Linked DNA regions of Homo sapiens. The protein of the gene in region 4 interacts with the protein of the main gene of each other region in a pairwise test. Each region holds a gene or a part of one and is shown on either strand. Other genes may lie near its edges. The genes, in order: MEOX2, RPS6KC1, HMGN3 and VDR.

What was found.
Region 1: the proteins of VDR (region 4) and MEOX2 interact in binary tests that used the Homo sapiens proteins (3 or more experiments, as listed by UniProt).
Region 2: the proteins of VDR (region 4) and RPS6KC1 interact in binary tests that used the Homo sapiens proteins (3 or more experiments, as listed by UniProt).
Region 3: the proteins of VDR (region 4) and HMGN3 interact in a two-hybrid assay, tested with the Homo sapiens proteins (one study listed by BioGRID).

The regions. Positions count from the first base shown.
Region 1 is NC_000007.14:15,683,657-15,691,743, forward strand, and holds the start of MEOX2 (homeobox protein MOX-2), read right to left. Parts: upstream 3,028-8,087; 5' UTR 2,747-3,027; coding exon 2,230-2,746; intron 1-2,229. UniProt on the Homo sapiens protein: Mesodermal transcription factor that plays a key role in somitogenesis and somitogenesis and limb muscle differentiation. Required during limb development for normal appendicular muscle formation and for the normal regulation of myogenic genes.
Region 2 is NC_000001.11:213,053,524-213,061,498, reverse strand, and holds part of RPS6KC1 (ribosomal protein S6 kinase delta-1), read right to left. Parts: intron 3,742-7,975; exon of another isoform or gene 131-3,741; coding exon of another isoform or gene 1-130. UniProt on the Homo sapiens protein: May be involved in transmitting sphingosine-1 phosphate (SPP)-mediated signaling into the cell. Plays a role in the recruitment of PRDX3 to early endosomes.
Region 3 is NC_000006.12:79,203,423-79,211,397, forward strand, and holds part of HMGN3 (high mobility group nucleosome-binding domain-containing protein 3), read right to left. Parts: intron 5,155-7,975; coding exon 5,125-5,154; intron 209-5,124; coding exon 158-208; intron 1-157. UniProt on the Homo sapiens protein: Binds to nucleosomes, regulating chromatin structure and consequently, chromatin-dependent processes such as transcription, DNA replication and DNA repair.
Region 4 is NC_000012.12:47,845,708-47,853,682, reverse strand, and holds part of VDR (vitamin D3 receptor), read left to right. Parts: intron 1-6,874; coding exon 6,875-7,026; intron 7,027-7,231; coding exon 7,232-7,348; intron 7,349-7,975.

The DNA.
Region 1 (8,087 bases), on a different chromosome or scaffold from region 4:
AATATACCTTCAGCTGAAATTGGCAAATAAAATTTTATTTTCAATAAGTGTACATAGATTTAAACAGAAACTATTGTGATTTTCCTTTTAGTCAATATTTCTTCAACATATCAAAGGAAAGAAAAGCTCATTCTAAATCCCCAGTATTTTTATCCTTGGTGATGACTAATTGTACTTTCCACTGAAGTTTTAATCTGTTAATAATTTATGTAGCTGACACAAACACTTATATTTGCTTGTTTTTCCAGTACCCTCATTATCAGCTTCAAAATGTAGAAATGAATTTAATTTTGTTAAATGGTTATTTCCCACTAAGTTGGGGGGGAGAGATAAATTAGTTTTGTTAAATTATTCCATTTTTTAAAAAAATTATTAAAATAAATTAAGGGAATCAGTTATTGAATTCCGTTTTCTCAGTTTTCCCCAAACAAAATAACATGTGCTTGTATGAAAATTGTTTGCCCTGAGAAACTTAAGGGCAATGGCTCAGTTCAGGAAGCATGAAGAACAATCTATCATGTAGGTTTCTCATTGCAAGAAATAAAATGAACCGTAAGAGCTTATGGGAATTGCAAGAGTACGCTCATCAACCCGAACTGGGATCTGCTTCCAAAGTTACACTGATATCAAATGTTCAGTTTATGAAATTGTCACTGCATTCTAAAATCGACTGTTTTTCTAATAAAAATTGAAACCTTTTTGCTATGATTAACCTTTCAACTCACTATCTAAAGAGAGTTTCACTTATAGTTAGGAAAATACATTAAATATCAGTGACACTACTGGTAATTTTCTTATAAAAACTAATTTGTGATGGAACATTAAAAGTTCACCCCCTGACCTTGGAAAATAAAAGTTAGCTTTTGAGACCGTGAGAGAAGAATCCATCCTATAGTAACGCTGAAGAACAATTGATATTGCTGTGAATGGTGAAGGAATATTAAATATGCGGCCAATCATTTTCATTTATGTGGCATCTTACCTAAAGCTTTACACACGATCAACATTTTTCCAATCCTTCAAACCAACATATGGGATTACCTTCTAGGACTATTATTAACCCAATTCCACAGAGGAAGAAAAATATGCAAATATTATATTAAACAAATGACACCTTCCAAAAGTATTTAATCCAGGTTGCACTATACCCACGAAAGAAAACTCACAAGTCTCTTAATTTTAAAGTATCTTTTAACAATTTTATAAAAATACAGGTAGGTAAGAGCTTTGAAAACTTGTCTGGAAACTTTGAGTTTCTCTGGATTGCTACAATTTATTCGGCACGTTGTGCCTTCAAGCACCAGAGGTCAGGAAGGTTCCCCTTTTGCATGGCTGCTCAAATTATCCCCACTGAAATCAGCGCCTCCTGCGCGCACCCTTGCATACCCCTTTAGACACGTATCTAACTAACAGTACCCGAGTTGCTGTTGCTTCGCAGTATTTGTCTCTACTAATACCCACTTGGTAGAGGGATTTATTTTCCACTTTTGAAACTTAGGTTCTGTAATTAGCTTACACCACATGGACATGTACTATTAAGGTTCGTCTTTCTTCCAGTGTGAGCATCTATTTATTTACAATTCTCTGACACATTCCTTAAAATCTGAATTCCTAGATAATGTCTTCTTCCCCAATAAAGGGAAAATTTTACCATTTGAAATAGGGTGCTATTTAAAGAACGCTGAAATAAGAATGTTAAAAAAAAAAAACTGAAACTTTTTTTTCTCATGCGCTCTGCCAAGTTCCATTGCAAGTTCCAAACATTGTGCAATAATTTGGAAATCCAGTTAACGATGGGAAAAATCGAGCCACTCAGAGTCGGCAACTTGCAAGAGAAAAGTCAAGAAGCGGCACCCGCACGCACGCCTGCCCAACGGACGCTGCATCCCTGGGCGCACGCCCCTCCCTCCCCAGCGCTGGGATGGAAGGTCACGCTTCACAATCGATTTCACAGCCACTTGTCCTTTTTTATCAACCTTCTGGTAAACTAGTTTAGGACTTTGGAGGGCTTAGAGCTGCTGGCTGTATACGCATTGCTCTCGAATAAACACGTGTCCCCAAATATCAGGACCAAAGCTTCACCGCCGAATTTGGCCGCAGGAAGCCACAGAGGGCAACACATTCCCATCTTCCCTGCTGCCACCCTCCAGTGCGAGAATCTCCCCTAGTATCTCTCCGCCCCTTTTCCAGCCCGGCGCGCACTCTCGAGGGTGCCTGGCGCGCCCTTACCTGAGCTGTCGCTTTTCCTCTTGCCGCCGCTTCGCTTCTCCGCCTCCGCAGGTGACAGTGCCTGGCGGCCGTAGTCCCCCGGCGCGCACGCGGCCCCAGTCGGGGTGCTGGAGCCCAAGCTGGAAGAGTTGGAGCACAGGACGGGCGGGCTGCTCCCCAACTCTGGGGGCCCTCCAGAGTCGGGCTGGAGGCAGAGGCTGTGCCGAGCCGCACTCGGTGGGGAAGACATCTGCGGGAGGTGCCAGTTGGTTTGCAGAGCCTGGTGCTGCTGCTGCTGATGGTGGTGATGGTGGTGGTGGTGGTGGTGGTGGTGGTGCCCCCTGTGATGCTGGCTGGCAAACATGCCCTCTTCGTTGGGGTATCCCGCGATTATGCAAGATGAGGAAGAAGTAGAGAGCTCGGGGTAAGACATATGGTCAGATCTTCCATGGAGGGCGAGAGAGGATTGGGAGAACGGGTGCAAGCCTTGCGCCGTGGCGTGAGGGCTGCGCAGGCAGCCAAAGAGCGGGTGTTCCATAGCATGCAAGTTTCGGGTTCCAGGCAGAAGACTTCACGGCGGTTCCAAAGGCCACCACCCTCTGTCACTTTTTCACTGGAAACCGTGTGATTTTTTTTTTAACCTCCCAAAGCAATAGCGGTGCACTTCTGCAGAGCTCGGATAATCCCGGTCCTGAGCCCCAGCGGCCAGTCTCCTTTACATATGAACAGTCGGACCTGGAAGAGCTTCCCTGAGCTACTCAGATGTCAAGAGTGGGAGAGGTTGAAGCCAAAAGAAGGTGGTCCCAGAGAACTGCTTTCAGGGGGAAATGGCTCTGAGAAGTTATAAATAGAGTGTAACGTGAGCTGGGGGCTGGCTTAGGAGCCCAGAGTTGACCACATGCAAACTCCCTCCAAAACTCCCGCTCAGCCTGCGCCACGCGCTCCCAGTTCCACTTCCTATCTCCTGCTGGACGGACGTAGAGCGTCCACGCCCGCCCAGCACTGCCGGCTGCCAGGACTACAAGCGGCACGCCAACGTCTAAGTCCCGCCCGGGAGGGCAGCAGCTCTGCCCTCCAGACTCTGGAGGCCTGGGCGCGGCGCACACCACCCCCAACCTAGCACCCTGATTCCTACCTACTCACTTTCCTCTCGGGGAAACGTGACTTGTCAGTGTCATTTGGGAACTGTCACCTGCAGAAAAGCTAGGGATACGCCTATCCTTTCAGGAACACGAAAGAAGTAATAGGGTTAAAGGAAAAGACCAGAGCTAGTTTGGCGCACCCTCGAAGTTTTTCAAACTTTGCATCTTCCCGTGCCCCGGGCGCCGCAGCGCGCCTAGGTTTTCGCAGCTGGTTTCTGTCGGTGGGTTGTTAATAGGCTGGGACGCCAGATCTGAGGTTGCGGGGATGAGCACCATGGCCTGGAAAAGGCGGTTCTCAGTGCAGAAAGAAGACGGACCTGGTTGGGTGGGTGGGAGGAAGGCGTGAGTCTGAAAGGGTTGCAGATGCCTGCTCCCTGGCATCCTCACGTGCGATGCCAGGTGGAGGCTCCCTTCCCCCTCTTTCCCGGTCCCGCTCAATTTCCTAGCCACTTGTCCACCAAGAAGAACTTTTCCTGGGTCAAGAATATTTCCAAGCGATTGTGTCCCGGTCATATGAGATGTGTAGATTGCACGCGCATTTCTAGCCTTTCCCCTCAGGAGCTAGCCCAGATCTCCTCGGTTTCCTCCAGAAATCCACTCTCTTCTGCTCAAAAATAAATCCGCTAATGCATTCCTTACCACCAGGGTTCCATTTACTGAGAATTCTTACATTTCGATAGCTCCCAAAATTCACTCACCGTGGGCACTTGGTTACAATTTTGCACCCCTGAAAATAAAATAGAAAACTCGCCTCTAGTAAGCATGCGAGAGCGAGGGCAGGGCTTTGAAGCTGCTACTTGCTTGGCGGGCGACAGGGTCCGCTGGGGGCAGAGTCGTTTACACACAAGTGAGTGGCGCTGTAATGAGCAGGAGGAACAGTCATGTCCCATCTGCGACCTGTCGCATCAGGAGAATATCTGTAGTCACCTATTCTGCCCGGGGCCCCAAATGCGCCACCAGCAGTGTCGCCCCGTTTTTTCATTGTCTCAGGTGTCCAGAGGATGATGACCAGGTCTTTGAAGTTGTTAGTGGGATTAATGGGTACAGCAAACTGGGCTAGACATCTGGTTTGAATTAGGAAAAAGCATTGATTAATCTTTGAGAGGTGTCCCCAAAGCAGAACCTTTCCCCTCCTCTTCCAGTCCCCTTGCTTAAGCCTCACTATCTTCTTTTCTTTTAAGTCACACTGCAGAATAGTGGCTTCGCAATAACATCCGTGTGAAAGATCGAATTGTTTTCTATTGCTCAGAGGTGGGGTGGAGTGGGGGTTGATCAGGAATTCTGAGATTTGTAAGCGCTGCTTTCTTTAACGGAAATTGAGCTCTATTTTGAGGGAAATTAGTTTTGCAGACTTCGTTTAAAAAAAAAAAAAAACTAAATCTTTTGTTCACCAGCTGCTCAGCTTTTCAGTCTGGGTCTGAGCTGAAACCTGCTGCAAGTCTGACGGTAAGACTTTCTTTGCCGATATTTTGGGAATCTAATATTGTTTTAGACTTCGAAAAGGGGTGTTGTTCAGGTTGCACGTTTCTAGGGGCTTTAAGCACTCGCAGGATGGCGTCCAGGACTTAGATCTTGAGAATATCTCTTCCTGCCACTCCCCACGCCCTTGGCTCTTTAAGAATAAAAAGAGGTGGGGGAGTTATAGTCCTCCAATATCGTCGGAATATTTTTTTGTATTTTCATTGTGTTTATGGTTTCAATATGTGCTCTGATATTAAAAGTTAAAGTACAAAGAGCAACACTAAACTTCCCCAACTCATGTAGCTTCTCTATGGATTCTGGGTGAAAGCATTAAAGGCTTTATTTAAAGTGAGATTTAGGCAACCACCTCAATAAACCTAACCAGAAATATTTACATAATATAATGCTGTCAACTAAAAGCATTGTGGAAAATGTCAGACAAGACAGACTAAAATTACTCATGATCTGCAGACATCAGTACAAAACATCCACAACGGTCCTTTTGGTTTGCATTACATTGGTTTAGAGGAAGCTAAGCAATTACTAAATGAATGGATTTGAATTTAACCAGTGTGTTGCAGGTAACCAGCAACAAGCACACACAAACCTTTCATCTCCCGAGGCTGCCACTTCTTCTTAAACCTGCCCAGTGACTGTGCTGGATTTTTTCTCACTCACTGTGTCAGATGTTAACAACCTGTCCAGAAGTTTCTCTACAACCTGCCCCAGTCAGTCAGCCTCTAGAACTGTGGGGCCAGAAACCTGGGAAGAAAAATTTAAGAAAGGTTAGAAAAGGAGGAAGTCATTCCAAAGGCATGCAATGAAAACAAAGCTAGCAAGAAAGGTCTTTTTAATTGAAGACACAGAACATTTAATATCAGCAAAAATTATGATGTCCAGTTTTCTTATAGAAAACAGAATATAAGGAAAATATTTGGAAGGAAAAAATGAAGGACTAAAAAGGACGTCTTGGTGAATTCCAGAATTAAATATAACTTTAATTTTCTCTGGATTTCTAAATATGTATTAATCATTACATAAAGATTTTTAAATTTTATTAGAATATTTGGAATAAGATAGAATATTGAATTTTATGTTCTAGGTTATAGAGAAATTTTTAAAATGTAGTAACAACGGGAAAAAAATCCCTAGCATTTCCTATAATAGCTACTTCAGTGTTCACATCCATAAAATCCAATATTGAAAAGATGCCTTTTTACCTAATGATATCAAGAAGAATGGTAAAAATTATAAAATTTATTATAAAATTTCTATATAACAATCATTTACAACTATGTATGATATAGTATTTATCCTACATTTATAATATACTTGAGTTTTCCTGAAGATAAGTTATATTAATGCCAACATTTCATGTAAGGTTTCAATATCAAGTAACACATTATAAAGAGGTTGATTCTGTGAAAAGGTAAGCTACTTAGCTCTTGCAGGGTCCACAGCTATAATTATTTTAAACGTAGGCTAGGTTCTTTAAACTTGATAAGTGTGTATATCTATTGTTTCCTCGGCTTAAATAAAATGACATTCAAGAGTAAAGGCAGAGATTTCTTTTTATTAGGACTATTTTATTTTAAGGGGACTAGAGCTCATATTAAGCAATACAACAAAATTGTATTTAAATTTTACTTTAAGATTCACAACGATTCTTTTAAAAGTTGCCATTCTTCTGCACACGTGTGACATGAGTTGTCATGGAACTTCAAATATTTAAAATTAAATAGGAAACTCTACTTTGAATTTTACCTAATAGATAAATTTTCCTTGGTAACATATACTCATAATATATGAACTAAAGGGTGGATAATTAAATTAATGTTGTAATTTGTTTCTGAAAACTTTATTGGGTATAGAAATATTATTTCTGCTATATTTTGCCAAAAAGTAGCAGTTATGTCCTTCAGTTGGTTCTTCTGAAATAAAGAATTTTGAAAATGTATCCAAATATGCTAAATACCCAATGGTAATTTATGTGATTTATGATGTACATTATTTTATAAAACTAAGGAACTGATTCTCCCCAGGAACTATGCATTATAAAGTTTATGGAACAATTTTGCTATGGCTAATGCATGTTATTTAGTGATTCTGTATACTTTTACACATTTTTAAAATGTTATTATTTTTATATAACATTAATTGGTACATTCACAGTAAAAATTGTTACATTCATTTTACATGTACCAAAAGAAATGAATACTTAAAACCTTACTTCTAAACTGTAAAACAATCCAACGTACTTTGTTTTTCTAGTTTCTAGGTCTTCCTGCATTTAAATTTATTTCTTTCAGGAATTAGTGTTTTTCTTCCATTCAATTCCGGTATAGTATAATCAATGAAATTGTTCTCAACGCTAAATATAACTCTGCCTAAAGCAATAAGAGAGGAAACAAAATATATCAAAATTAGAACTATTTAACGGATGATCTTTAGAAAGCCAGCATGCAATATAGATTATGACTAATAAAATTAAATCTAAAAGATTGAATTAAAAATTCAAAATATATGCATTCTTTCATAATATGTATTCACACTTAATAAAATTCTAATGATCTCTTGTCTTTCTTTTTCTTTTTTTATTTTGTGAGGCGTCTTATGATTGGGAAGACATAGATTGCCTCTCAAATTTCAAACACTTCCATCTGGACTTCCTTTTGTTCACCTGTTTTAAATCCATAATTATTTGATAGTTAACTCATAATAATGCTAATAGACAATAATTAATTTCTACATTTTCATTTGCATTCACGTTGTATGTTATTTTTATTGATAAATGTAGGCCTTTTCAAAATTTTGTCATTGAAAATTATATCCTTTCCATAACAGGGAGAGGTACAGGCAAACTAATTCAAGAGAATTCTATAATGAAATGCTCTATATTATGTTATATTTTCTATAGCATCCAACTCATAACCATTACATTTCTATCCACAATTTAAGGGAACTACACCGTTTATTTCTCCCATGTCTTAAAAAGCAAGGCTATCCTTTTATATGAATTGAATTTAGAAAAGTTCACAAACCTCAGAGAAGAAAAATTGAATCGAAAATACAGACAGGAATTATAAGTAAAACCTTAGTCTTCTGTTTTAAGTTTTCCAACTTGAAGAGTTCAACATAACCAATGTAACTTTGGCACTATGATAAGTTTTTCTTGTGTGTTTTTATTTTTCATACTTCATCAATTTGTAGCAAGTTTTATTCTTAAAGTGGCTTTTCCATTTTGAGCTCAGGTTTATGATTTGGATTACTAAAAAC
Region 2 (7,975 bases), on a different chromosome or scaffold from region 4:
CACCTGAGTTCTTCTCTCCCGCTCTTCCCTGCAGAGCCACAGGTGGCACTGGTTGGCAAGAATATTTGGGCTGGTTATCACCCACCAGCCAGGCAGTCTGGACCCAAGAGGCAACACCTGCACAAACCATAATTAGACATTTTATAATTTTTAGTTCTCTGGAGTGAAAGAACTCCCATATAAGATAGATAAGTCAATGGGACAAATTTTAGACATTCAACTTTCTAACAAGTTTTCACGAAAGCATTATGTCAAAAGTACTACAGACTGAATGTTTGTGTTTCTCCTAAAATTCATATTGAATTTCATGTTGAAACTCTCATCCCCAATGTGATGGATGTGGATGTGAGGCCTTCCAGAGGTAATCAGGTCATGAGGGTGGGAACTTCATGATGGGATTACTGCGCTTACAAGAAAAAGACAATGATCTCTCTCAGCCATGAGACCATACAGCAAGAAGGCAGCTGTATGCAAATCAGGAAGCGGGCCCTCATCAGGTATTAAATCTGCTGGCCTCTTGGTCTTGGACTTCCCAGCCTGCAGCCTTCAGAACTGTGGGAAAGAAATGTCTATTGTTGAAGCCATCTAGTCTATAATATCTTGTTATAAAAATCCAAACTGACAAAGACAGTAAGGAGTTGTGGCTTTCTAGATTATTAAAATCCCAAAATCTCAGGGAGAGTAAAGAAGCTAAAACTGCAAGTTATCTCTAGATACTCAGTATATGTTTGCTAAAGTTATTTTTCTCACCTCAAATTTTACCAATTATAGCAGTATTCTAAACTATTTTCCAATCAAGGTTCAAGGAAAATCAAAATCCTTAATGTTAAAGAAAGTCTGCAGTTTAATATAAAATCTTAATATCTGAGACAAGTTGTCAACAAACAAGATGAAATCAGGAATGGTTTACATTTTTTAAGTTCCATTTACTGAAATTTTTGGTATATTAGAAAGTTTTCTACTAAACAATATTACAAGTTAAAAACAAAGGAACAGTAGAATAAAACTAGACTCTAGAAAACACAAGACACCTTGAGAGCCATTTTTCAAAAATTTTAAGCATAAATATATTTTACAACAAACTAATTGCCCTCCCTATCCCTATGATTATTTTGTTTGTTGAAAATATCTCCAGATTAAGCCAAAACTAAGTATTTATTCAAGAAATCTTCAAGAAGCTACTGATTTAACAACTGAAATCTAACAACTCCCACTGCCTTAATATCAGACATTTGTTAATAATCCTAACAGGTTAAGGATTTAAAATTTAGTAGGTTCTTTCTTTTTTCCTTTAAAGTGACTCAAATTATTGCTTGAAATGTGTATGACTACATATTACTTCAAAATTTAAAAGCTAACAAAACTAAAAAGTAAAACATGCAGCTGGACGCGGTGGTTCACACCGGCAATCCCAGCACTTTGGGAGGCTGAGGTGGGCGGATCACCTGAGGCCAGGAGTTAGAGACCAGCCTGGCCAACATGGCAAAACCCCGTCTCAACTAAAAATACAAAAAAATCAGCCGGGTGTGGCCAGGCGCAGTGGCTCACGCCTGTAATCCCAGCACTTTGGGAGGCCGAGGCAGGCAGATCACGAGGTCAATAGATGGAGACCATCCTGGTCAACATGATGAAACCCCATCTCTATTAAACACATAAAAATTAGCTGGGCACGGTGGCGGGTGCCTGTAGTCTCACCTACTCAGGAGGCTGAGGCAAGAGAATTGCTTGAACCCGGGAGGCAGAGGTTGCAGTGAGCCAAGATCACGCCATTGCACTCCAGCCTGGGCAACAGAGCGAGATGCGTCTCAAAAAAAAAAAATTAGCCGGTGTGGTAGCACATGCCTGTAATCCCAGCTACTCGGGAGGCTGAGGCAGGAGAATCACTTGAACCCGGAAGGCGGAGGCTGCAGTGAGCTGAGATCGCACCACTGCATTCCAGCCTGGATGACAAGTGAGACTCTGTCTCAAAATATATATATATAAATAAATAAAACATGCAGCCTCCCATACACAAAAACTCTACCGTGAAAATTATACTAGAGGATAAAAGACTGAATGCTTTCCTCCTAACATCAAGAACAAGGCAAGGAAGTCTACTCTCACCACTCCTATTCAAGACTGTGGACTACAAGTCATAGCCAGTGTAATAAAGCAAGAAAAAGAAATAAAAGACATACATTTTGGAAAGAATAAATAAAACTATGCCTTTTGGCAGACAACACAGATTGTCTATGCAGGAAAAAACCAAGAATTCTACTAAAAAGTCTTAGAACTAATAAGTCAGTTTGAAAGGTCACATGATACACCAACATGGCACATGTATACATATGTAACTAACCTGCACGTTGTGCACATGTACCCTAAAACTTAAAGTATAATTTAAAAAAAGTCACGTGATATAAAGACAACACAAAAATGAACCAAATTTCTATATATTAGCAAAGAAAAGCTGAAAACCAAGATTTTTAAAAATACTATTGACAATAGCTACAAAAATACGAAATAGTGGGGAATAAATCTAACAAAATATACAGAGAAGCAATTTGCTCAAAACCACAAAATGCTGATAGAAGAGATCAGAGAACACAAATAAACTGCAAGACATACTGTGTTCATAGATTTGAAGATTCAACATAGAAAAGATGTCCATTTTTCCCTAAAGTGATCTACAGATTTAATGCACTCCTAATCAAATCCCAAAAGGATTTTTTGTAGCTATAGATAAACTGATTCTAAAATATATATGAAAAAGCAAAGGAACTAGGGTAGTCAAAATAATTTTGAAAAAGAATAAAATTGGAGAAACAATATTGCCTAATTTTAAGATATAGTATAAAGCTATAATAATCAAGATTGTATGGTATGGAACAAAATAAGAGAATCCAGAAACAGCTTTACACATATATAGTCAATTGACTTTTGGCAAAGGAATAAAGGCAATTCAACGAAGAAAGGTTAGTCTCTTGAACAAATGGTGTTTTGTTGCAATGGGACAACCAGAGGCAAAAACAGAACCTTCACCCAAACCTTACACCTTATAAAAAAACAAAAAACAAAAAAAAAAACCTCAAAATGGATCATAGAGCAAAATATAAAATGCAAAGAAATAAGTTATCTAGAAGAAAACATTGGGAAAAATATTTGTAACCTGAGGTTAGGCAGAGATTTTAGGTATGACACTAAAAGCATGGTTCATAAAATAAAGAACTGATAAACTGGACTTCACCAAAATTACAAATTGTGCTTTGCAAAAACACTGTCTGGGTGCAGTGGCATACCTGTAGTCCTAGCTACTTGGAAGGCTGAGGTGGGTATCACTTCAGCCTAGGAGGTCGAGGCTGTAGCACACTATGATCACACCTGCGAATAAGCACTGCATTCCAGCCCTGGCAACACAGCAAGACCCCATCTCTAAAAAAAAAAAAAAAAAAAAAAAAAAGGTCAGGCGCACGTCTGTAATCCCAGCACTTTGGAAGGCCAAGACAGGCAGATTGCTTGAGACCAGGAGTTTGAGACCAGCCTGGACAACATGGTGAAACTGGGTCTCTATTTAAAAAATACAAAAATTAGCTGGGCACAGTGGCACATTCCTGTAGTCCCAGCCACTCAGGAGGCTGAGAGGTGGGAGAATTGCTTGAGCTCAGGAGGTCAAGGCTACAGTGAGCCATGATCACGCCACTGCACTCCAGCCTGGACAACAGAGGGAGACTCTGTCTCAAAGGAAAAAAAAAAAAAAAAAAAAAAAAGATACTTCAGAGAATTAAAAGATATGCTCTAGATCAGGAGAAAATATTTACAAATGTCATATCAAACCCCAAAAAAAAGATACCCAGAACATAAAGAACTCTCAAAACTCAGGAGTAAGAAACAAACAACCCAAAGAAAAAAATAGGCAAATTATCAGTCTAAAAGGCTAAATACTATATGATTCTATTTATATGACATTCTCAAAAAGACAAAAGTATAGTAGTATAGATAGATCGCTGCTTGCCAGGGTATAAGGAGTAGGGGGAAGGGTGGAGTTTTTTTAGGATGATGAAACTTCTGTTTCTTGATTATGGTGGTAGATAAATGAATTTATACTCATGTTAAGATTCAAAGAATTATACAAAAGAATAAGTCAATTTCATTGTATGTTAATTTAAAAATCAATACTTGAAAAGCAAAGCGCTGCCTCCTTCCAGCCTACCCTGAAATCCCTACTATAGTCCAAGCTCTGTGCTAGGCACCAAGAATATACAGTTAAAAAGACAGAGTCAGCCGGGCATGGTGGCTCACGCCTGTAATCCCAGCACTTTGGGAGGCTGAGATGGGTGGATCACTTGAGCTCAGGAGTTCAAGATCAGCCTGGGCAACATGGTGAAACCCCGTCTCTTAAAAAAAATACAAAAATTAGTCAGGCAGGGTGGCATGTTCCCGTAGTTCCAGCTACTAGGGAGGCTGAGGTGGGAGGATTGCTTGAGCCTGCAAAGTCAAGGCTAGAGTGAGCCGTGATCGTTCCACTACACTCCAGCCTGGGTGACAGAGTGAGACTCTCAAAAAAGAATAGAGTCTGCCATCAGAAGAGGTGTCAAACAAGTACATTATGATAACGGAGGAGATACAAGACATATAGAGAGCAACGCCTAAAAAAAAAAAAAAAAGCTTCCCGGAACACAGGGTATAGCTGACACCTGAGATGAGCAGAGATTGCCAAGACAAAAGGAAAGAGTATTCCAGACAGAGAAAATAGCATCTAACAGAGAGATATGGAAGAATGTAGTGTTCTAACCTAATTTGGAAACTACAAATAATTCCATTCCCAGGCACAAGCAGGCTGCTTAAGAATATGGTCAGGAAATGAGGACAGGTTCCCTCCAAGCAATATAAATAGTGCTTCGATTTGAAGCTTTGGAAATGGTAATTTTTCAGACTTAAGTGAAGCTCAGTACTTCCCATTAATTCCCTCACTCCCCTTTGTTCACATCATCACAGTTACTTATTATTCACGTATCCATCACTTTTGCCAAACTATAGTAATGCCCTTGTGGGGACACATAGGTGTCCCCATATGCACACTCACAGCACCTAATGAAAAATGTTTTATAATACAGGTATTCAGCAGCATAGCATTGGGATTAAAAGCACTGTGATTGGGACCAGTCTACCTGGGTTCAAATGTAGACTCTACCACTTGCTGGCTATATGACCCTGGACAAGTTACTAAACGTCTCTGTGCCTCAATTTCCTCATTGAAAATGTGGAAATGATAATGGTACCTACTCACCGGGCCCCTGTGACAAATGTGTTAATTTAATATAAACTGCTTGACTCAGTAAGCACCATGTAAGTGTTTGCTGTTATTACTCAACAAACACTAGCTACGTATAATAAAACTAGGATTTATACATTCTCCTGGTTTCAAAATAAACCCAAACTACTTTAAATAGGTGCAAAGCCAATGAGGTAGCTTGTGCCCACAATCCCAGGCAATAGGCTGAGGAGGGAGTAACACTTGAACCCAAGAGTTCAACCTGCAGTAAGCTATGATTGCGTCACTGCACTCGAGCCTGGGTGATGCAGTGAAACCCCCATCTCTGAAAAAGATCAATAAATAAAAATAAACATGTGCAAGACTGTATCCTGAGAATTACAAAGCACTGCTCATACTGAAGAGCTAAATAAATGAGGAGATATATTATGTTCATGGATCAGAGACAATATTATTAAGATATCAATTCTTCTGAAATTCATCTACATTCTCAATATAATCCCAATCAAAATCTGGACAGGCATTTTTGTAGAAACCAGACAAGCTGATTCTAAATTTTATACACAAATGCAAACAATCTAGAATAGCCAGAACAATTTTGAGAAAGAAAGAGTACTTAGACTACCTGATTTCAAAACTTAGTATAAAGCTACATAAACAAAGCCATGTGGTATCATGAGAAATAAAACCATATGTCCATACAAAGACTTGTATATGAATGTTCATAATAGCTGTATTCATAATGTCCAAAAACTGGAAACAACCCAAATATCCATCAGATAAAATGCAGTATATACAGATAAAATGCAGTATAACCATACAATGGAATATGAGTCAGCAATAAAAGGGAATGAAACACATGACAACATGGATAAATCTCAAATAATCATACTGAGTGGAAGAAGCCAGACCAAAAAAAAAAAGTGCATACTATATGATTCCTTGTATACAAAATTCTAGAAAATACAACCCAATCTATAGTGACAGAAAGCAAACCAGTGGTTGCCTAGAGATAGGGAATGAGGGGGAGTGACTGACTGCAAAGGAACATGAGGGAACTTGTGCAGTGATGAACATGGGTAGTTACACAACTGTATACATTTGTCAAAACTCATCAAATTGGACACTTACAATGGGTGAATTTTACTGTATATAAATTATGACTCAATGTAAATTAAATAAGTTATAATACAGCACTGTCTTTTGAGAATAAAAACATACCTTTTATACTCATGGAAAGAATACAGGCAAGAACTGCCATTCACCTACTGTTGCTGAGAAATCTATACTACAATATGAGAATTTTGTAAACTTAGCATGATGAAATAACTGAAAACACTGCTGATGGTTCTCTTACACTTGTGTCTCCTTCAACTAAAGAATCAAAGGGAACTTATGAAAGAATTTTCCAATTCTGAATAGAGGTACTTATTCTACATAAAAATTAAGAAATAACACTGAGTTTAACTGCAGAATCTGTTAGTATGCTTGCAACTGGCCTCAAAATCATCTAACCTTGCCAGATTTCAGAGAACTGCAAAAAAGCACAAAGGAGATTTAAGAAGATGAAAAAGCTCTTTTGCTATCCAAAATTTAACATTGGTACTTCCAATGATTAAAACTCTACTCCTACAGAAATAACCCTGCAAGGATCAAAAATATAGAAAATTGTTCCTTGAAGCTAGAAGTAAATCAGTAGTAGAAAATATACAGAAGACATTCTTAATTTTTATCTCATGAAGTTCTCTCAGGAGAGCACTATTTACCTGGTTAATTATCCTGAAAAAAGGTGTTTTTCTCCTTAACTCTCAAGAAATATTTTATAATACTAAGCACAGTTATTTTAAAAGTATGTCTCCACGTTGACTCTCAGACCTTACATTTTAAAAACAAAATCTGTAACATAAGCAATAAATGAAGACATAAATATTTACGGGAAGAAAAAAGGCAGTCTGTGCAATTTTCAAGTTCAAATAACCAGAGCAATATGTAACATGCATATATATAAATGTGGTTAGTTCTAAGGCAATGTGCTACTTTATCTTCTAGTTTATATTGTCAAAACTTAGCTCAGTAAATAGGTCACAGCTTCAGATATTTAAGATCTGAATTTGGCCAATGCGGTGGCTCACGCCTGTAATCCCAGCACTTTGGGAGGCTGAGGTGGGTGGATCACCTGAGGTCAGGAGTTCGAGACCAGACTGGACAACAAGGCGAAACCTCGTCTCTACAAAAAATAGACAAATTAGCCGGGTATGGTGGAGGGCGCCTGTAATCCCAGCTACTTGAGTGGCTGAGACAGGAGAATCACTTGAACCCAGGAGGCGAGGTTACTGTAAGCTGAGATAGCGCCACTGCACTCCAGCCTGGGCAAGAGAGCGAGACTACGCCTTGGAAAAAAAAAAAAAAAATTCTGAATTTGGTTAACCTTTCCTTTTGTAAAGTAACAATACAAATAATTATACTCAGTGCTTCCAATTCCAGTTCCACACACATTCATACCTCCAGGTCTTTATGGACTCTACCCCTTCAACTGTCTACCTTTTCATACCCTCTCCTTTTCTGGATTCTTCCCCTCTTTCAACTATCTTGATTGGTACATATTCCCCAATCTCTTGATCCAGAAGCAATCTGTCTTCCCACAGCCCTTTTCTGTAGTGTCTGCTGGAACTTCCTGTGTTATATCACACTTAAGTATACTAAACTCTCTTCTACTATGAGTAT
Region 3 (7,975 bases), on a different chromosome or scaffold from region 4:
AGAAAACTGTGCTTTATGCCTTTAAGCAAGCCCGTAACAGTGGTAATGGTTTCAGTTTGGATCATTAAATACGGCCTTTCTTTGAATGATTCTGAGGTAGGGAATTATAATTTATTCATTGTTTAAAAAGCCAAAAGTGGGAAACAGCACTTCTTACCTTAGCAGATGTTTTTCTTGGTTTGGGTTCAGGTTTTGGTGGAGCAGGTTTCTGCAAAGATAATTTAAATTACACAAATACTGAAAAAAAAAAAAAACTATCAGCACCAAAAGAAACACAAAAGGACTAACAAAGACAACTATCCATTTTGACATGGCTTTGGTCATTAAAAAGTATTTCATCCTATTTTCAGCACCAGGTAACAGCATAAAGATCTCTGCATTTCATAACTATTTTCACCCTGGGTTCACAAGGGAACTGCAGGTGAGATTGAAAAGCCGACTCCTTATTCCCTGGTCCAGAATAGCTCTCCGGGAACAGGTCTAAGCTTCTATCTCCAATGTGTCTGCTCTTCCTTTTATCACAGCACAGCAGCAAGAGGAATGACTCAGGCCCATGGCCAAAGGACTCAATGAATTCAGTTGCACTGGCCTTCCTAACAGTCTAGAAATCACAGCACAATCACTAGCAAAGCCCAACTGGTAATGAAGACTGCTGCCTGTGAAGTATTTCAAAATCACTTCCAAATCCTTCCACTTCTAATGTAGATTTCGAGTTCTGTTGCCAAGCTTCTTCCTACTTTTATTCTCCCCAATGCCAGCTCAAGGTGAGAATCTCTTGTCTAACCAGATATGCTGGGCTCATTTGTGTCTAAAGGTTTTTATTGAGAACATCATTATAATGATAAAATGTCTACTGTTAGCTCCCAAAGTTTAAATTTTTCACAGATATTATTAGCCAAACAGTCCCCTAGGAAACTATTTTTCTCTTGCCTCATGTGGTCCTCCTCCAGTTCCCATGAGCAGCACCTGCACACCGTGTGACCATGGACCCTCTGCCACACAATGCTTCAGCCCTGGCCAGCTTCCCAGGGGCCTGAGACCAGGTGGCACATGCGGATAACTGGGGAAAGATAACCATTTTACACCAGGAGTTTTCTGTGGATATTTTAGGGCAAATATTTCTCTCATAGAACTAGAAAAAAGTGTACATCTCTCCTGGCACTAGAAGAATGGTTTTAAAATAGAAAACACTGGCCAGGGTCTCCCCCTATGGAGAAAAATACATGTTCCTCCCTAGTGCCTCTAGGTAATTCACGTTCACACTGAATCTGCCCCTTTTCATCAAGGGCATAAAGTGAAATTGTAGACAGTTTGATTTCAGAAGATTGGCTGTTAGAAATGACCTTTCAAATAAAAAAAGAAAATCGAGCTTGAAAAGTTAAGAAATGTTTTTATTAATCTTCTTATCACCCTAAATCTGCAGGCCAAATACAGCAGCTTTCATGGCTCTTACATTTTCAGAATTTAAAACATTTTGTCATCCTAAGCTTTGATATACTGTATTAATATACATGTTTTCTCCATTTACAGTAAACAATTTCCTTTTATATTATTTTCTGTAGGACAGACCTTTCCCTCTGACCCAGCATTCAAGTGTTTTGATAGGACCAGGAAATGAGGTTTTGTAGTCTGTAATCCTGCTGGCCTCTGAGGAGGCTCTGTTTCGGTAGCACAGGGAATGATCTCAGTGGAAGGTGCTTATATTGCTGGTTTCTGGTGCTCAGGAAAAGCTTTGTTTTAAACTTTGGTTTTCATTTGACTTACAAGGTCTGTTCCCTTAACTGCCTGGAGATTCACAACAGCAACCCCAGCTCTTAAGTCCTCCTAGTGACTGACACCTCTTCCTAATATGGTTTAGCTGTGTCCCCACTCAAATCTCATCTTGAATTGTAACTCCTACAACTCCCATGTGTCATGTGAGGAACCCAGTGGGAGGTGATTGAATTATGGGGGTGGGTCTTTCCTGCACTGTTCTCATGATTAGTGAATGAGTCTCATGAGATCTGATGGTTTTAATAACAGGAGTTTCCCCGCACAAGCGCTCTCTCTCTTTGCCTGCCACCATCCACGTAAGACATAATTTGCTCCTTTTGTCTTTCTCCATGATTGTGAGCCTTCCCCAGCCACATGGAACTGTAAGTCCAATTAAACCTTTTTCTTTTGTAAATTGTCCAGTCTTGGGTATGTCTTTATCAGCAGCGTGAAAATGGACTAATACAGTAAATTGGTACCAGAAGAGTGGGGCACTGCTGAAAGATAATGAAAATGTGGAAGTGACTTTAGAACTGGGTAACAGACAGAGGTTGGAACAGTTTGGAGCGCTCAGAAGAAGACAAGAAAATGTGGGAAAGTTTGGAACTTCCTAGAGACTTGCTGAATGACTGTGACCTTTCCTAAAGATTTGTTGAATGGCTTTAACTAAAATGCTTATAATGATATTGACAATGAAATCCAGGCAGAGGTGGTCTCAGATAGAGATGAGGAACTTGTTAAGAACTGGAGCAAAGGTGACTCTTGTTACGTTTTAGCAAAGAGACTGGCAACATTTTGCCCCTGGTCTAGAGATTTGTGGAACTTTGAATTTGAGAGAGATGATTTAGGGTATCTGGTGGAAAAAATTTCAAAGCAGAAAAGCATTCAAGAGGTGACTTGGGTGCTGTTAAAGGCAATCAGTTTTAAAAGGGAAACAGAGCAGAAAAGTTTAGAAAATTTGCAGCCTGGCAATGCGAAAGAAAAGAAAATCCCATTTTCTGAGCTGAGGAGAAATTCAATCCGGCTGCAGAAATTTGCATGAGTAATGAGGAGCCAAATGTTATGCACAAGACAATGGGAAAAATGTCTCCAGGGCACGTGACAGACCTTTGCAGCAGCCTCTCCCATTACAGGCCCAGAGTTTAGGAGGAAAAAATGGCTTCGTGGGCCTGACCCAGGGTCCCTCTGCTCTGTGCAGTCTAGGGACTTGGTGCCCTGTCTCCCAGCCGCTCCAGCTGTGACTAAAAGGGGCTAAGGTACAGGGGCTATTGCTTCAGTGTGTGGAAGCCCCAAGCTTTGGCAGCTTCCATGTGGTGTTGAGCCTGCGAGTGTGCAGAAGTGAAGAAATGAGGTTTGGGAACCTCTGCGTAGATTTCAGAAGACGTATGGAAACAACTGGATGCCCAGGCAGACGTTGTTGCAGAGGCAGGGTCCTCATGGATAACCTCTGCTAGGGCAGTGCAGAAGGGCAATGTGGGGTTGAAGCCCTCACACAGAGTCCCTACTGGGGAACTGCCTAGTGGAGCTGTGAGAAGAGGGCCACTGCCCTCCAGACCCCAGAATGGTAGATTCACTGTCAGTTTGCACCGTGTGCCTGGAAAAGCTGCAGCCATTCAATGCCAGCCTGTGAAAGCAGCCAGGAGGGAAGCTGTATCCTGAAAAGCCACAGGGGCGGAGTTACCCAAGACCATGGAAACCCACGTCCTGCATCAGCGTGACCTGGATGCAAGAAAAGGAGTCAAAGATCATTTTGGAGCTTTAAGATTTGACTGCTCTGCTGGATTTCGGACTTGCATGAGGCCTGTAGCCCCTATGTTTTGGCCAATTTCTCCCATTTGGAATGGATGTATTTACCCAATATCTGTATCCCCATTTTACCCAAGAAGTAACTAACTTGCTTTTGATTTTACAGGCTCACAAGTGGAAGGGAATTGCCTTATCTCAGATGAGACTTTGGACTTTTGAGTTAATGCTGAAATGAATTAAGATTTGGGGGACTGTTGGGAAGGCATGATTGGTTTTGAAATGTGAGGACATGAGATTTGGGCGGGGCTGGGGGCAGAATGATATGGTTTGGCTATGTCCCCACCCAAATGTCATCTTGAATTATAACTCCCACAGTTCCCATGTGTCATGGGAGGAACCTGGTGGGATGTGATTGAATTATGGGGCGGGTCTTTCCTGTGCTGTTCTTGTGAAAGTGAATGAGTCTGGTGAGATCTGATGGTTTTAAAAATGGGAGTTTCCCTGCAGAAGCTCTCTCTCTGCCTGCTGCCATCCACATAAGATGTGACTTGCTCCTCGTCTTCCACCATGATTGTGAGGCTTCCCCAGCCACATGGAACTATAAGTCCAATTAAACCTCCTTCTTTTGTAAAATGCCCAGTCTTGAGTATGTCTTTATCAGCAGTGAGTGTGAAAACAGACTAATATACTTCCTTACGAGACTCACGTGAAACACTGGCTTGCCTGATCCAAACAGCTGTATTTCTGAACTTGTGAGTGGTCCTAATACCCATTTTTGCTTTGATTCCTTATATTGTATCAGGCACAGATTTGGGTTGAGAATGAAATCCATGCTTTCCTGAAGACCAAAGTAGCATGAAGCTTCTGTAATAGCTAGTATGGGGATATACTAATATAGTGTCAGCCAAAATGCCAATGCCTTTCCCTCTACCTTCTCAGTGGGAAGTCTGGGCTGCAGGAATTTTAACCAAAATCCTCCACTAGAGTCCAGCTAATCTCTCAGGAGAGCAGCAAAAGAGAAGAGCATAAGAACCAGTAAGGAGCACAGGTTGGTGAGGAAGAGCTGAAGGATGTCCACCTCAGAGGCTCAGCCACATCTGCCCATCTCAGCTTGTATCCTAACCCCACAAGAATCTCCTGGCCCACAGAAGGAGACACCAAATAGCAAAGTAGAATTATTACTATTACAAAGATTCTTTAGGTCTGAAATGAGGCTACAGTATATGGACTCAGACAACTTTCAGAACATTCTCATACATACATTCTAAAGTATGAGTTGTGGACAGAGAATCAGAATTCTGTCCACTTCAGCACATCATAGGTACAATCTGAAGACTGGAACTTTGCCTAATATACTACTTTTGTTTCAGAGATCTAGCAATGTCAAACAACATCCTGCTTTATATTCTTCGTTATGGGGCTGGCCACTGTTTTTCTGACACATTTGATCAAGTGAATTGCTTGGCAACACTGGTCAAATTTGCTAGACATGAGGACCCTAGGTAATTTTCAAAAAGAAAATAAGCTCATGGGAAACCATGTTAATCTTCCTTTTGCTGCTTCACTTTGGACAAAGGGAACATGTACTCATAAGAACTAACACTGAAGTGGTTCTAAGGTACTTACCGCTGACAATCTGGCAGACCGTCTTGTGGGCTACAAAGGGAATGGGAAAATATACATATTTTTTGGTGATTATATAAAACGAAGTTGATTTTTAAAAATCTATTCTTAATATACCTTACTTTGTTGAATGACTATAATGTATGATTCCCATCACCTTCTCCAGGTAAGCACAGTGAAACATATCCCAAGTCCCCTGGGCACGATGACACTCAAGAGGAAGTGTTTCTAAAAAGGGGTAGGTATACTGTTCAAATAAACGGCTTCTCCCAACTAAGGGTGTGGTGAATAAGTAAGGGAAATGAAGATCAACTTAGGCTTTATCCCAAATTAAAACCTCTACTTTTATGACAAAATCAACAGCAAGAACATTGAGGTGCTATTTAAGAGCTAGTCTTCAGTCTGACTCCAGCTCCTTAAAAATGGAACTAAAGCTTTTAAGTTAATACAAGAAGAGACTTATGCAATTGTGTAGAAACCAAAATAGCAGGAGTTCCCCATCTTGCTGCTATGTTAGAAATGAAAATGACTACAAATCTTGGCAGTTAACAAGAAAGGCTTCTTTTTACCTATAACAAAACAAACACATTTATCTAGTAGTATATGTTCAAAGGATTTAACCAGAATTAAAAGTGCATTACTTTTTCTTTTAATTTCAAAGTTTAGAAAATTTACAGAGAAACTGTGTAGAAATTGATATTTTGGGGAAATCTTTTTTTCTTCAAGGATATTACAAGTTAACAGCAAATGACCCTGAAAAGAAAATCTAAATTAACAGAACTGTCCTAGGCATTTCAGCAATAACACACAAAATTGATATTCTACTTACCATCCAACCTACGGTGGCTCCCCAAGGGATTTCACATTCTAAAAGCATAACTGCCTTTTTAAAAAAAGTGCCCTAGAAATAAATACTCCATACTTTTTGTCTGTTTTATTCACTGCTCCATCTCCAGTACAGTAGGGTACTGGCCAACATATAGTACAAACTCAGTATTTGCTGAATAAATGAATCCAAGCCTTTCCCTAATTCTCACTGCCTTATGCAGACTTTGCCTCATTACAATAGCTTAAATGTTTCAAATAATTCTTCCTAAGGGGGACAGCAAAAATGGTCAGTAGGAATCCATGCCATAATTATGAGGAATCATGGAATTCTTGAAGTGGGGCTAAGGTCAGTCTAGGTCAGCCAGTCAGGCCAAACTGGAAGAAATATTTCTTGCCATCTCCACATCTAAGAACTTTCTTGCTGAAAATAGCCAGAGAAGCTAAACTCATCTTTCTTTAAACTACAGAAGGAAACGAAGGGCCAGAGCCTCCATGAATACTTTTAACCCTGGAGTCTCGAAGAAAGATCAGAGCTGGACTTAAGGCCAGCTAGGAGAATGTGCTGAGAATGAAAGGCTGTGCAGGTTAAGTGATTGGGTGGGATACACTCACTGCACAGAGTAAAAGCTTGTACAACTCAGCACATAGCCCTGTGAATTAGTACAGGAGGAGTGTGTGTCAGATTCTCCATAGGAACCATAGTGCCTGCTATGGTTATCAAGGGTGCATTCTTGACAGTGCACCCATAAGTCCCTGGGAACCAGAATCCAAATCCTGCAATACCTTTCCCAGCATGGTTAACCGTATTAAGTATACTGAAGGCAACATTTTCAAGTAAACCGGGCAATAAGAGGTATCTTGTGTTTTTTTAATGTACTTTCTGAGCATAGAGGAGCAAAGAGCACCTTCCAATTACCCAACAGAGCTCAGCTTTGAAGCTTCAGTGTGGCCTCAAGGACTATCCATGTCTCATAAACTACAGCAGGCAGAACAATACCTTCCAAGATGAAAGTGACAGTCTCCATGCTAAAGAGAGGTGAAAGAGCCTTATCTGACTCTCTCTCCACTTGATGTCAACTCATGTGCACCATGCTGGTCTTGCCTCACGTTCACCTCATCTGACACGTCTCCATACCTCCTTGCACAGGACCACCTTCTCTTATATTTCTATGGCTCCAATATGTAGCAGGGGCCCTCAATAAGTGTTGAGATGAACAGAAGGGGTAAGCACCAGAAACATACAGCAACTGTGAACTTGTAGGGAGGGGAAGAAGTCCTAGAGCCACTACTCAGTTACTCTTTAGTTTGGGGCCTGAAAAGGGTCCAAACATGTTAGCCATTACTCAAAACTGCCTCCCTATCTGCCATCTAGTTGTCTTGAATAAAATCTCCATGAAGTGAGGCAAAATCATGTGAAAAGTTCCCCAGCTGCGACAATGTTGTTCCTCTCCATGTGAAGACCTGAACATACCAAATAGACTAAGTGATGCCAGAGAGCTCTTTGGGATTTCCAGAGACATTCCAATCTAAGCACTGCTCTACTGGGACTAACAGCTGTTCTGATCCAAAGGACTTAATACCTTTTAAAAATTCAGGTCCAGTACAGGAGTTCCAAAATAAAAAGCCTCGGAAATTAATGCAAAAAAAAAAAAAAAAAAAAAATGCCTAAGCTGTCTAAACCAGCCAGTACCTAAAAATCCTATCTTCTATTATAAAATCATTTTATGACTTGCTACATACAATTTCCCAGCTCTTCTTTCTATGCCATTAAAAAAGACTTTTCTTACATTTTCTTTTCCAGTAGCTATCATAAGAGATTTTCGTTTTCACTGCAAACAGTGGAGGCTGAGATGAACCTTTCACTCAGTCAGCAGTACTGATTATGCATACAAGTATGGACACCTTCCTGGAAAGTTCTATCAGCTTTCACAGCCTTAAAATCTGTAAATTATTGGACTATATTTATTGGATATGAAATAGATTAGACTGCTATTTTTTCCTTTTTAAAACACTAACATGTGAAGTA
Region 4 (7,975 bases):
CCTGGGTTCAAGCAATTCTCCTGCCTCAGCCTCCTGAGTAGCAGAAATTACAGGCACGCACCACCACGCCTGGCTAGTTTTGTATTTTTAGTAGTAGAGTTGGGGTTTCACCATCTTGGCCAGGCTGGTCTTGAACTACTGACCTCAGGTGATCTGCCAGCCTCAGCTTCCCAAAGTGCTGGGATTACAGGCATGAACCACCACGCCCGGCCAATATTCTTTTTTTTTTTTTTTTTAATTGAGGCAGAGTCTCGCTCTGTCGCCTAGGCTGGAGTGCAGTGGCATGATCTCGGCTCACTGCAAGCTCCGCCTCCCGGGTTCACGCCACTCTCCTGCCTCAGTCTCCCGAGTAGCTGGGATGACAGGCGCCCGCCACTACGCCCGGCTAATTTTTTTGTATTTTTAGTAGAGACAGGGTTTCACCGTGTTAGCCAGGATGGTCTTGATCTCCTGACCTCGTGATCCGCCTGTCTCGGCCTCCCAAAGTGCTGGGATTACAGGCATGAGCCACTGCCGGCCAATATTCTTAAAACAATAGAGTATTGACACATTTAATAGATGTGTTGGGAAATGGCTATATTTATGTATATTTGTATCTTCATTCTTCCCCAAAGTTCATTTGGTATATTGCCATAAAATACATAAACAATATGGTTGAGAAAGAGAAGTAAATCAATCTCAAGCAATGTTATTGTCTTTCAAGTAGCAGCAATAGCTGTATTTACGGCAGAAGGGGCAAAATGCTTCCTAGATACTAATGCTCAGATTCAGTGCTGGAATATGGGGAGCTGGAAAATGAGTTAACATTGCCGGCTCTGGATGGAAACAGATTATGAGGTGCCATATATTGGTGTATGGCCCTCTTAGCTGTGTAGAAAAGCCATGAGTTATTGCCGAAATTAATGCCTTGCCAGTGAGATGATGGTCATTCACAGAGCTAAACCCAGAACTTTCCAGTTTGTTTCTGCCCTGAGAAAACTGGCTCTGTGTTATTTTATGCCTCTCACCAACCCAAATAACAGAAATTTTTCGATGCTCTTCCCCTGGAATTAATGTGAAAATGGTGAAGAAGAGAAAACTGGCAGACAGTGCTGAGACACTCCTACTGCATTGCACATTTTGGTTGTAGTGATAGGAGCGAGGGCCCCTCTGGCAGGCAGGCAAGCAGGAGCAAGCGACAGATCTTGTGTGAGCCCGGCATTGCTCTGAGCCCAGGGTTTACCCTCAGAGGCTTTCTTTGGAACTGACAACACATTCCGTAGAGCACAAGTTCCAACTCCCTCCTCCACGCTTCACGTTACTGTTTGCAAACTCCACATATTCCAAAGTCTTGTTTTGTGTAAACAGCTAGGGAAAAAACACAGAAGCACTCGGCTTCCATCCTCATGTCAGGCAGCAGTCCTTGTCTACACAGGCTTCATCCTTCCCTGCTCTAGTGGGGAGTAGGACAGAGGGCCCCCACGGCCCTTTCCAGATACAGTGATTCCAGGTTCAGTGATTCCAATGGTGGCTGAGATTGCATACACGGGAAAGCTGCCCTAAAAAGAAAGTTACTCATTAAATCGGATTACTCCAATGCTGCCCCCTTCACTAAGGAACCCCAGCCTCCAATTTCTCCCATGCTCAAGGCCCCTATCCATTGCCCTCCCACATGTACCCTGACACAAATAGCACTACTCTCAGTTTCTCTTCCCGAGGTTAAGTTGAAGTCTGCCCTCTTCCTTTCATCATGTTCTCCTCTGTCCCCTAGTCTGTCCTTGCAACTCATGGCTAAAGTGAGGTACATATGGCAGGTACAGGAGCTGCCCAGCCATTGATGCAAAATGGGTTAAACTGATCCTGAACATGCTAGGGTTGGCTTCTCTGTCTTCAGTATGACTTGAGAAGTCCCAGAGCAGAAGGTATGCCAATGAAAATGGAGCAGGCCTTGCTAAGAGAGCTTGCAGGGACACTGGTATGGACGCTCTCTGTGACTGGACAGAGGTGATGCTGAGCCTGGACTGGAGCCCAAACCTAGGCTCCAACTGGGCCCAGGGTGGGCCAGCCCAGTAGCTCTCTGGTTCTGCTGCTTTCCACACTTAGGGGTTCTATTGTTCCAAGACATAGAAGAACAGTGGCTGCATCCCTGGTGGCTTTGATCTTGCTGCCTGCAGGCAGGGGCGGAGGGTGTGGGGAAGGCAGGATGAGACTTCTGTGTGGGTGTGTGGGGGCACAGGATGAGTCTCCAGTGGGGGCATGAGACCAACGTGGGGCAGGGCTGGATGGGCTGTTCTTGGTGTGAACTGTGCTACAGTGTGGCCTTGGCCTGCTCTCTCCTCCCATCTCTCCTCCCTTAGCCTCTCAGTCTCACCCCACAAATCTCCCTCCCTGCTGGCACTGCAAATGAAATGCATGGAGGAGGTGGCATCAGCAGCAGCATCTAAATGGCCAAGAGCAGCCTTAGATCTGAGGACTTGGGACCCCCAGGCTTCACTGACAAGTAAAGTACACAAGAGACCAGGCCACATAAGCTGCAGCCCTGCCCTCTTCTGCTAAATGCCTTCACCTTCATTGCCATTTCCATACCTAGGGAAGAGCCCTGGGGGTTATCATGCTTCCTTCGTGCTGTGCCCTTTCTCCACATTCATTTCTTCATCCATCCAACAAATAGCTTTCTTACATAAACTGTGAGGGACAAAAGTTGTTGAGAAGACAGTCCCTGGCATCCAGGGATTTGGTGTCTGATGAAAGAGATAGACATGTAAACAATTGCTGCAAGGAGATAAGAGCCCTGCTACAAGCCTGCTGGAGGTACCGTGGGAATGCGGGAGGGGAGGGGAGGGGCCGGGCTCTGCCTGTGGGGGTGGGAAAGACGAAACAGCAACACAATTCCAGTCACATCTCGGGTGCCCAGAAGCGGCTGCAGGCGTGAAGACAGAGGAGGGTGTAAATGTCACACAGGTGAGGGAGGGGGAACGGAGCTGTGCTGGTGCCTATCATCGTGGAACAAGCTCTCTTATGGCTTCCCCTGTAACTCCACCTCTACTCCCACCACGCCACCATCCCTGGTCCTGGCTGTGAGCTGTATTTAGAAAGGCCCTGTATTTCCAGGCTGTGGGCAGTCATTTGGGGTCGTTTTGGGTTTGTGTTCCTAGCAGCAGGATGTCTGGATCACAAAAGCAGTGATCCCACTAAAACCTCTCTGGCCTGCATCCATGGAAGATGTGTTCACTGCTGGCCATCTGTTTGAGTGGGGCACTGAACAAAAGGCTATGTATAAAGTTATTCCTCCCAGAATTACCTATGATAGCAAAAATTGGAAGCAATCAAAATGTTCAAAAATAGATAAATGGAAGACTGGCTCAATAACTTAGAGTATACTGTTATGATGTAACATCATGCAACCCTCTAAGAACTGGGCTAAATAATTTTGAGTGATATAGGAAGTAGGATAAAGAATTAGTATAAGCTCCAGTATGTTAAATGTATACTCCCTCTCTCTATGTATATTTGTGGGTATATATATATTTGCATAGAAAAAAGACAGGAAGGTGCCAGGCACGGTGGCTCACACCTATAATCCCAGAACTTTGGGAGGCCAAGGTGGGCAGGACTCACTTGAGGTCAGGATTCAAGAGCAGCCTGGCCAACATGGTGAAACCCCATATCTACTAAAAATAGAAAAATTAGCCAGGTGTGGTGGCACATGCCTGTAGTCCCAGCTTCTCCGCAGGCTGAGACAGGAGAATTGCCTGAACCCGGGAGGCAGAGGTTTCAGTGAGCCGAGATTGCACCACTGCACTCCAGCCTGGGTGACAGAGCAAGACTGTCTCAAAAAAAAAATTAAAATAAATAAATAAGAAAAAAAGATAGGAAGAAAATACGCCAAAATGTGAAGTGTGGTTATGAGCAAATTTAATTTGTTTTTACATTTTTATGTATTTTCCAAAGATTTGATAATGAGTATGTTTTACTTGTATAATGAGTCAAAACAAAAATGGGGATGGTGTTCATTTTTGTGTTTTAAATGTGGATTGAGCATCTAGAGAAAAGTGACAAGGATGGTGAGATGTTAGACATTGTGTCATTAGACTATCTGAAGGAGGACACGGCAGTTTTCCTTTTTAAAAAACTCCATTAGTTATGGTTCAAAGGAAGTCCCATGGCTAGTGGAGAAGTCTGGTTCTGGGTTTATTGAGCACAAAACTGTAAACCACAAATGAGTGTACTATCACGTGGATTGTAGCTCAATAGAAGAGGTCATTAATCTCGGCGCTAACAACCCCATGGCTGTGTCCAGAGGCCCTGAGCTCCCTGACCCTAGGAGAGTCCTGCAGAGGTTATGTAGGAGCCATCTCTAAGAGTTCCTAAGAGGGGCCCTCCAACTCTAGCACGTTGTGATTTTTTTTCAATACAGATCCTTTGCTGGCCATCCTGATCATGCAAGCCTTCTCATTTCCCACCATCTATCACCCATTGATACAACACTCTCATCAGTTAATATCAGCTTCCCATCTTTATATATAAACATGCAGCCATTGACGGGGTGACAGCCTATCTGCAGGATATCCAGGAGGAAGTAGACAGTCAGGAAGAGAAAGGGAGTAAAAGCCAGAAGCAAGCTGATTTGTGAGCCCTGCCTTTTCCTCGCCATTGTTCAGACAAGCCCATTCCTGACTCAGAATAGTGGAACTAGTCATTGGCCTCTCAAATCATCAACGCATCTCTATTGATCATCTTGTGCTGACGGCTCAATGGTCAGTGTGTGGGCAACAGTAAGGTGATTAAGAGGAGGTGCTGGCCCCCAAGTAACTTACAAACAAGAGTAGAAAACAAGTGGCCGGGTGCAGTGGCTCACGCCGTAATCCCAGCTCCTTGGGAGGCTGAGGCAGGCAGATTATCTGAGGTCAGGAGTTCGAGACCAGCCTGGCCAACATGGCGAAACCCCGTCTCTACTAAAAATACAAAAATTAGCTGAGTGTGGTGGCAGGTGCCTCTAATCCCAGCTACTCAGGAGGCTGAGGTAGGAGAATTGCTTGAACCTGGGAGGTGGAGGTTGCAGTGAGCCAAGATCTCACCACTGCACTCCAGCCTGGGCAACAGAGCAAGACTCTGTCTCAAAAAAAAAAAAAAAAAAAAAAAAAAAAAGGAGTAGAAAACAAGCATGTAAAGAGCAGAACTGGAGGAGACGGGCAAAATAAGAGCACCAGCAATGTTCAAGGCATCACAATGACATGGCCCTAACTGTGCTAAAGAGTCAGAAGGTGCGGGGCTCCAGTGGAAAACACAGTGGATTCAGGACCAGAAAAACAAAATGGAGAATTAGAAGGGTATTCCTGGCTGGAGCTGTAGTATGCTGAAAGGCGTGGTGATGGCTGGGTGCAGTGGCTCACACCTGTAACCCTGGTTCTTTGAGAGGCCAAGATGAGAGGATCACTTGAGGCCAGGAATTTGAGACCAGCCTGGGCCACATAGTGAGACACCATCCCTACAAAAAAAATTTAAAAATTAGCTAGGCGTACACCTGTAATCCCAGCACTTTGGGAAGCCTAGGCAGGCAGATCACAAGGTCAGGAGATCGAGACCATCCTGGCTAACACTGTGAAACCTCGTCTCTACTAAAAATACAAAAAAAAATTAGCTGGCCATGGTGGCGGGCACCTGTAGTCCCAGCTACTCGGGAGGCTGAGGCAGGAGAATGGCGTGAACCTGGGAGGCGAAGCTTGCAGTGAGCCGAGATCGCGCCACTGCACTCCAGCCTGGGCGACAAAGTGAGACTCCGTCTCAAAAAAAATTAGCTAGGCGTGATGGTGTGCACCTGTAGTCCCAGCTACTTAGGAGGCTGAGGCAGGAGGACTGCTTGAGCCCAGGAGTTTGAGGCTGCAGTAAGCCATAATCATTCTGTTGCACTCCAGCTTGTGTGACAGAACAGGACACTGTCTCTAAAAATACTAATAAAAGAAATTAGCTGAGCATGGTGGCGCATGCTTGTAGTCTTAGCTATTCGGAAGGCTGAGGTGGGAGACTCACTTGAGCCCAGGAGTTTGAGGCTGTAGCATGCTATGATCATAACACTGCACTCCAGCCTCAGCAACAGAGTGAGATCCTGTCACAAGAAAAAAAAAAGGCACAGTGAGAACACACAGCATCTGAATGTGGAGTGGCATGATGCTGCTAGAATGGAAGGTTGGTGGAGTTTACCATGGGAAAGGGAGTTGGAATGAGAGGTTGGAGCCAAGTTAGGGAGTGTGGGCCTGATCCTAGGGTGTTTGAGAGTCAGTGAAGATTTCTGAGTGCAAGAGGACATTGACCTGCAGCAGTGGTAAGAAAGATGAATGAGAGACTGGAGAGACACAAGTCTGGGATTCCTGTAAGAGGCTATTGGAAAAGACGCTGGAGCTCTGAACCAGGGCACTCCTGGTAGGAGTGGGAATAAGATCACGGGCTTGAGAGACATCCTAGAGACAGAGTTGGCTGAATTTACTACTGAGAAGGACTGGAGGACAGTAGGAGGGAGAGGAGGAGAAAACTTGGGTGTTGTTGAAGATACCATGGCCCTACCTTTTGCAGACCACCATATTCATGCCTCAATGCTGGGAACTTCCCTGGGCTCCGTTTCCTGTGCCCCATAGCTCTGGCTGCTTGGTCTCTGAGTTTTTCTTGTCTTAGTAACTGAGCTACTTCACTTCTGGCCTTGGCACATGATCACAGTGTTGAACTGTTCTCTCTCAAGGAACACTCTTGTCCCTTCCAGCCAGCCTGCAAGCTCCTCGATGAAAGACCCAGGGTGCATGTTGGTGCCCAGCAGGTGTATACCTGTCAAAGCACTAAACTGATTTGTGTGGCTTGAAGGCGTTTACTGGTAACCTGACCTCCTTCCCTCCCTCCCCTGCAGAGACCTCACCTCTGAGGACCAGATCGTACTGCTGAAGTCAAGTGCCATTGAGGTCATCATGTTGCGCTCCAATGAGTCCTTCACCATGGACGACATGTCCTGGACCTGTGGCAACCAAGACTACAAGTACCGCGTCAGTGACGTGACCAAAGGTATGCCTAGACTCCACCTCCTGGGGAGTCTTTTTCAGCTCCCAGATTCTGGCTCCACCCGTCCTGGGGTTTGGCTCCAATCAGATACATGGGAGGGAGTTAGGCACCAACAGGGAGAGAAGGGCGAGGGTCAGACCCATGGGGTTGGAGGTGGGTGGGCGGCTCCTCAGCTCTGCCCGCAGTACCTGGCCATTGTCTCTCACAGCCGGACACAGCCTGGAGCTGATTGAGCCCCTCATCAAGTTCCAGGTGGGACTGAAGAAGCTGAACTTGCATGAGGAGGAGCATGTCCTGCTCATGGCCATCTGCATCGTCTCCCCAGGTATGGGGCCAGGCAGGGAGGAGCTCAGGGACCTGGGGAGCGGGGAGTATGAAGGACAAAGACCTGCTGAGGGCCAGCTGGGCAACCTGAAGGGAGACGTAGCAAAAGGAGACACAGATAAGGAAATACCTACTTTGCTGGTTTGCAGAGCCCCTGTGGTGTGTGGACGCTGAGGTGCCCCTCACTGCCCTTAGCTCTGCCTTGCAGAGTGTGCAGGCGATTCGTAGGGGGGATTCTGAGGAACTAGATAAGCAGGGTTCCTGGGGCCACAGACAGGCCTGCGCATTCCCAATACTCAGGCTCTGCTCTTGCGTGAACTGGGCTCAACATTCCTGTTATTTGAGGTTTCTTGCGGGCAGGGTACAAAACTTTGGAGCCTGAGAGATGGTTCTGCCTATATAGTTTACCTGATTGATTTTGGAGGCAATGTGCAGTGACCCTTGACCTCTTCCGCTGGTTAGAGGTGAGAAGAGGGAGAAAAGGCCGAAGAGGAAGTTATTGTGACCTTGGGGACATGATGTCGGTGATGAGGTCCAAAGAGGGGCGGCCCTGCCTCAGCCTGTGCTAGTGGCCTGTGCCCAGGGATGCTTTCCTGGACTGGAGGCTCAAGGAATGGAGATGGGCTCC